Linked DNA regions of Homo sapiens. The protein of the gene in region 2 interacts with the protein of the main gene of each other region in a pairwise test. Each region holds a gene or a part of one and is shown on either strand. Other genes may lie near its edges.

Region 1 (3,600 bases), on a different chromosome or scaffold from region 2:
CATCTTCCAATAAAAAACCGATGAAAACAATCTTATATGATAATCAATTATCAGTTTTCAAAACTGTTTATCACACTAAATATGCCTCTTTTGTATAAAAGTCAATAATTAAACTCTCTAATATCTTGAGATAAAATATTCCAGGCTTCCGTGCAAGAAGAAATACCATATAATCAAAAGAACAGACTGGCTGGAGTAACAATCCCCACATTATTATTTGATTAAAATTCAACATTTTTAGTTCAAGACATATCAAAACCTTTAAGAGTATATATAACGGAATCATTTGGGAAGTCAGAAAAGCAATTGTTAGAAACAGAATTAACAAATTCCAGACTAAAGAAAAGTGATTTGAGTCCAAATACCTCGCCTAAAATTACAAATATCTTTATTAACTGCACTGCCAATGTTTTGCCTACTATTTTGGAGGGGGCAGAGATTATCTTAAATAAACTGAAATTTGTGCCACACGGACCAAAGTCTTGCCACTATACTGAAAATAGTTTTACTCTAACAACTCTTTAATGAAAATGCAATGTACAGCTAATTAAGCATGAAATTTCAGATGACACACGCATGTTTTGTGCCTAAAGACAAAATTGTCATTAGGCACAAGGCATGCGTGTGTCATCTGAAATTTCAATTTTAAGTTGAAATCTGAAATTGACACTTCAAACAGTTACGGCAGAGCTATGACTATTTGTTTCAAAAACAATATTACTACATTAGCATTACTGCCAGGCGGTTCCAAATGACGACAGGCACTTTTTAATCATAATCTGCGCCACTGAACAAAGAGGGCGACATGAATCCAGGAACGACAGTGCGGCAGTCTGAGGTCGCCAGGAAAGAGATGACAACAGAGTGGGTACCCCACCGAAGGAAAGGGGCAAAGACCTTTGTAGAGATGGCCTGCGCAGATACAAACAAAACCACGAAAAGGGACCTCAAAGAATGGGAGACAGCGTTCACGAAGCAGGGGTGGGGGAGGGGCCCTATTCTAGTTCTCTTCCTCAATTTGAGTCATCTTCCCATCGCCACTAAACCTTACGGCCAGTGATCAGTTCTTCGCAAGACCCAAAGCTCTGAAGCTGAGTCTGAGTGACGAGAGGAGACGGGAAGAAAACGGGGACAGAGAGGGCACTCCCTGTTGGGTGGGGCACCACATTCCCGCCGGGCTCACCCAGCCCCGGCTCGGATCGCCTTCTCTTTGGTCTCTCACACTAGCACCCCAGAGGCCGCAAAAAGCACCTTACCCAGCTCGCCATGGAGCACAGCCCCAGGACGCTCCCCATCTCCACAACGTCACAAGAGCAGCGGATACAGACAAGATGGAGACAGCTTCTTTCTCGCCTTTCCGAGATTATTTACTATCTGCGAGACACTTCCGGACGCACAGCGCAACCCGCCCCTCAGCCTCGCGTCACTTCCTTCCAGGCCTGGGTAGGATAAAACACGGAGCGCGCAGCGCTGAGACTGCGCATGCGCGTCACTAGACGACACGGCTGTCTTCTTTCCTGGAGAATTTCTCAAGGACTGCTGGCTGGAAACTTAACGGCTAATGTGGATCTGACCGTAGTTTGCCAAATTAAGAAAACGGTGTGAGCAAAACCCACCTTTACCTACCATGCACTTGCATTTGGGCATTAGTAGAGAACAGAGCTGAGGTGGTGGTTGACGTTTTGCCCTCCTTCATCTGAGGAACCTCTCTGCTTTTTAGGGGATTGCTTCCTCTTTCTCAGTCTTTGTCCGTCCTAACTCCACTTATTTCCCATTTTTCCCACGTTTGCATCCTGTTTTGCTCTTGCGTTTGCAACGTATTCCTGCAGCCCGCTGCCCGGAACAAGTTTTATTGGGATATTTATATTCATCTGTGTGCTTCAGTTTCTCTGTATCATTTCTGTTTGCTATTGACTTATATTTTAATTTCTTATGCTATTAAGATGTTACAAGAAATTTGCACGTTAAAATTATTTTTAATTAGTTAGATAAGACATTATCAAACTCAAACATTGATTTCGAATGTCATGAGCTGTTGAGGCATGTGGAACCCTTGCATATTAGGTGATGATGCACATCTGCAGGGAATGCATTCCTATAAAAGTTCCAGTTATTTTTTTAGAGTTATTTGTTCTTGAAAATATTCTGGGAAACAGCTCAAACTTGAAATAGTCATTCCCATAACTAATAATAAGAAAGTGTTGTAAAATCTACAAAAATTGCATGGGTCGAGGTGGGGTAAACACCTAAGAATCTGGAAGAATGTCAGAATCCCTACTCCTAGTTATTGTAACCACTAAGGGACAATCTTGCTTTATTCTTCTTTGCCTTATCTGTGGTTTTGTAGACCACTCTTAAAGCAAAGTATTATAATAGAGCATCCATAAGGTTTAAAGAATTGTGGAAATGCTTGTAATCCCAGAACTTTGGGAGGCTGAGGCAGGCGGGTCACAAGGCCAGGAGTTCAAGACCAGCCTGGCCAGCATGGTGAAACCCCATCTCTACTAAAAATACAAAAAATTAGCCGGGCATGGTGGCACGCGCATGTAATCCCAGCTACTCGGGAGGCGAGGCAGGAGAACTGCTTGAACCCGGGAGGCAGAGGTTGCAGTGAGCCGAGATTGGGCCACTGCACTCCAGCCTGGGCTGCAGAGCGAGACTCCGTCTCAAAAAAAAAGAATAGTGGAAATGGAAATTACAAACCTAACAATATTTTTAATTATGCTAAACTTAATACGTTATTTATGGGAGAAGAGAATCCTAGTATCTCAAGTCCTTAAACTTTTCAAAGTACCAGAGAAGGAGACAAAAAACACTTATATGTGAGTAACTTTAAGGTCGTAAAGAATATGTTTATTAGCCAAATGGAGAATGGGTCTCTTAAAATTTAAATTTGCACAGATTCTTGTCTCTTGCTCCATTTAAGAGGGTTTCTGAGATATTCATAAGTTCTTGCACTATTCAATAGAGTTTTTTCACCTGAGATATTCAGAGTTAAATACAAAAGTCATATTAATCTTTCTGGAATGTAACACTTGGCCTTGAAATACATTAAAAAAAATTTACTTTTATTTAACCTGTAGGCTATGTGGAGTGGAATTTGCTCACTTAAGTTATTATATATACAACATTAATTGGACACGACAGTATATATAGACTATTTTATTCGTTAGAAGAGTCTTCGACACCAGTCTCATTTTTCTCTTTGCCAACTATGAAAGAAAATTGAAATGATGACTTTTTCAAATTTCAACCCAAACACAGCTCAAAGCATAGTTTTCTCAATATATACCAGCTATTAGTAGGAGCACCCATTTCTCCAGGTGACTTCCTGTAGCACACGTATAACTTACAATGCCAAAATTCAAATTAGTCTAAGTAAGTACGTTAGTAAAAAACATTCTATCTAGCTGAGCATGGTGGCTCACACCCATTATCTTAGCACTTTAGGTGGCTGAGGCGGGCAGATCACCTGAGGTCAGGAGTTCCAGACCAGCCTGGCCAACATGGCGAAAACCTGTCTCTACTAAAAATACAAAAATTAGCAGGGCATGGTGGCACACCTCTGTAATCCCAGCTACTCAGGAGGCTGAGGCTGGA
Region 2 (3,386 bases):
AGTTCATCCTCAAAACTCAAATTTTGAATTGCCTCTTGCTTTAAGAATTATAGTCCACCCCCAGGGTTTGTTCCTGGTTTGTCTGGCACCTTTGCTCCTGACTGAACTTGAATCAAGGTGCAGGATTTCAGTGTCTTCTCTTACTCCCCTCCCTACCTTTCCTCGACACCAAGATCTCCGAACCTCAGCATTATTGACATTTTGGGCCAAATAATTACCTGTTGGGAGGGTTGCCTTTGCATTGTAGGATATTTGGCAGCATCCCTGGCCTCTAGCCACTAGAGGCCATTAGCATCCCCTTCCCAGTTGTGATAACCATAAAAGTCTCCAAATATTGCCACATGTTCCCTTTAGAAGTAGGGAGGGAGGAAAACCATTGCTCTAATCCATGAGGATCCCAAGACTCTGGAATCCTGCTAGGAATTACCTGGCCACTACTGGACATGGTCAAAGAAACTTTAGACCCGTGTGATTTACCCAAGTCAATGTTCTCAACCCTTGCTGCATTTTAGAATCACCTGAGATGTTTACAAAGGACCAACTGGGCACCAGTATTTTTTCAAAAGTTCCCCCAGGAAATTCAAATTTGTAGACACAATAGACAACCTCTGAACTAGACGTACTTAGTAATCTTAATACTTATAAAAACCAACCAAGCAACCAACAATGACCGAACAATTTTATTTCAAATAGGAAATATCCAGGTAGCTTCAAAGCAAGAAAAAAAAATCCCGTATGTCCATAGATTGTAGAACATAAGTCATCAGAAACATTTCACATTTAATTTCTGCTGTTCTGATATCAGCACAAAGCAGTTGGGAAACCTAATGCCTTTGGGAATTCTGGGCTTTTTGACAGTTTGACTGAAGGTGCATCCCTTGATGTAGAGCATCCCCTGGTGCTTGTAACTCATAGGCGATCTTTTGTCAAAAGTAACATCTATTAGAGAACTTCAAGGGGAAAAGACTGAGCCAGAGGAAATCCCCTGAATGTAATGTTTGGTGCTGGCAGGAAGCAAGATCAAGACTTAGCAAGACCAGAGGTGGCTTAGGAAGGGAGGCCTTCTCATAATGTTTTTCAGCAAATGAAAGTTATGATTAAATTGCTACCACTTTCCTTCATCTGTACTCAGTAAGTGTGGGAATAGACCCAGACAATGAGGGTCTTTGTATCTTAAGATTGAGGAACATTTTGTCCAGAGGTGTACATATTCTAGAAGCTGCCAATTCCACTTCTGGCTAGCAAGGAAGATTTGGCAAAGATTGTCAGCCAGCTACTGATCTTCTGAAAGGTAGAGGAATGCATTAGATAACATTCAACTTTCAGTGTGCTCTTGGACAACTCAACTTATCTTCCCTAAGATTTTGTTTCTTTATCTGAAAAATGGGCAATGTGGCATTTGCCTCACATAGTCATTATGAGGATTAAATTAGATAATGGGTGTGAAAGTGCCTTGTGAATTGTTAAGCCCAATAAGGTAATATCTTTTTGGAGACCTCCCACTCTGAAGATTCAGCTAGACCAGGATCCAGTGGCTTTCAGTTTTGGCTTCTAGGGCATGTGTAAAATAATGGACAAGCACAGTCGTTGATATAACTTGTCAAATGTCTGTTCTCAAGTGGGCAATTAGGAAAATACATTTGAGCTAAAAAGACAGAGTGATGTATTTTTCATGACTGAGGTTACAATGGTATTTTAGGTTATTATATACTAAAGACCAGGAAATTAATTGGTGTCCTCTAAAATGCAGGAGAGCAAGAGATTAATCTGATAAATGGTTTCCATTAAAAATTCCATTTGGCTTCTCAAATTCATCTTGTCTCCTGCAGTTTCTGAATGCCACAATGTCCTCCCCTTGTGCCTTCCAGCTGCATTCTCTTGCTCCCTACACCACTAGGTTTGGAGAATATCAGTATTTATACAAATCCAGTAGCATAGCGGGAACTGGAAGCTTAACCCATTAGCTCCCTAATTCATGAATATGTTGACTGAAACCATAGTTTTGTCTTTCAATTTAGGGTTTGGTTGGTACTCAGAATGTAATCTTTGTCGATACTGAAGAAAAGGGTTTTGGTGACACCATTTCATACAGATAGTGCAGCTGAAACCACCCAAATGGGACTATCGTCAAGATGCCGAGTTATTAGTGCTTACCTAGCAAGAATTCCCATCGAGGATGAAATAAACAGGGCAGGAGAGAAGGCTGTTTCAGGGGACAGTCAGCGTTATTCTGGGGGGTGGGGGTGGGGGACAATGGTAGAGAAGTGGTCATTGTTTCCAAACTTTTATGCAGATGCTTTTCCAATTAGATGTCCCATATGGCTAGCAGACAAAACTGGGTGGATTCCACCTCAGGCTTACAAGAACACAGACACTTAGATGCCATCTTTCTGAAGAGAATCCCAAACTGACTGCAAATCCAGAGCTGAGCATGCCACTACATGATGACACTGAGTTCATATTTCTCTGGTTTGTCCTCAGATTGTTCTGTCTTAAAGACTGAGTCAGGCTCTGGATGGTGGATTTCAATGACAAGAACATAGATGAGGCCTCCAATGACAGCACCAACCAAAGGGCCCACTACAGGAATCCACCAGAAGTTGTTTCCAGCTCTGAAATCAAACAAGAAATTAGTGATACATTTCTTGGCCTTCCTCCTGGTATTACTGTCTAGTTTTTCACTCACTTGTTAGTCTTTCTCACACTCATGGTTCCCTCTTAACTCAGCAAGAGCTAAGTATAAGGGGGGCTCAGTGCAGCATGGCAACTGCCATCCTTGACTTTCCACTACACCTGATTTCAGATGATCTATTTAATTGTCCTACTAATATTTGTGAGATATTATGTCTTATTTATTTTCTTTTTATAAAATATAGTGCCTGAGCCCATCGTTAAGATTGAGGGCCCCTAAGAAAGTTCAGGTCAATTATTCAGAATTGCCTTTCCCTCATCCTGAAATAATGATTCCTGTGGATTACAAGCAGAATGTGGAGAGATTCCTGGGCATCATTAGTGTATGAGGACAATCAAACTAATCAATCAGGAAATGTTTTTCAATGAATGAATGAATTTTTAAAAAATCTAAGGTGGATGTGTGAATTGCCTTCTAAATATAATTTAAATCAGTACTTATTTTTTAAGATCTTAGCTTGAGGCTACCCTCTGATAAGGCTGTCATGCCATGGCTCTCTCTCTTCCAGAAATCCTCAATGTTAGTACATTACAGCAAAGCTATAGTTCTGGGGAAAAGCAGGTATCTTTGTGAGTTGTCACCATCTTCTTTGGAGAGAGAAAATCCATGTAAATAATTTCTTAGAAAGGATCAGGAAAGCAAACAAATTATACAGTATATTGTTTAAGGATATATACATTTAAGATAAAAGTAT

The links. The genes of interacting proteins can lie anywhere in the genome.
Region 1: the proteins of AQP9 (region 2) and SERINC1 interact in binary tests that used the Homo sapiens proteins (3 or more experiments, as listed by UniProt).

What each region holds. Positions count from the first base shown.
Region 1 is NC_000006.12:122,470,443-122,474,042, forward strand, and holds the start of SERINC1 (serine incorporator 1), read right to left. Parts: upstream 1,366-3,600; 5' UTR 1,296-1,365; coding exon 1,257-1,295; intron 1-1,256.
Region 2 is NC_000015.10:58,183,187-58,186,572, reverse strand, and holds the end of AQP9 (aquaporin-9), read right to left. Parts: intron 2,613-3,386; coding exon 2,438-2,612; 3' UTR 662-2,437; downstream 1-661. UniProt on the Homo sapiens protein: Aquaglyceroporins form homotetrameric transmembrane channels, with each monomer independently mediating glycerol and water transport across the plasma membrane along their osmotic gradient.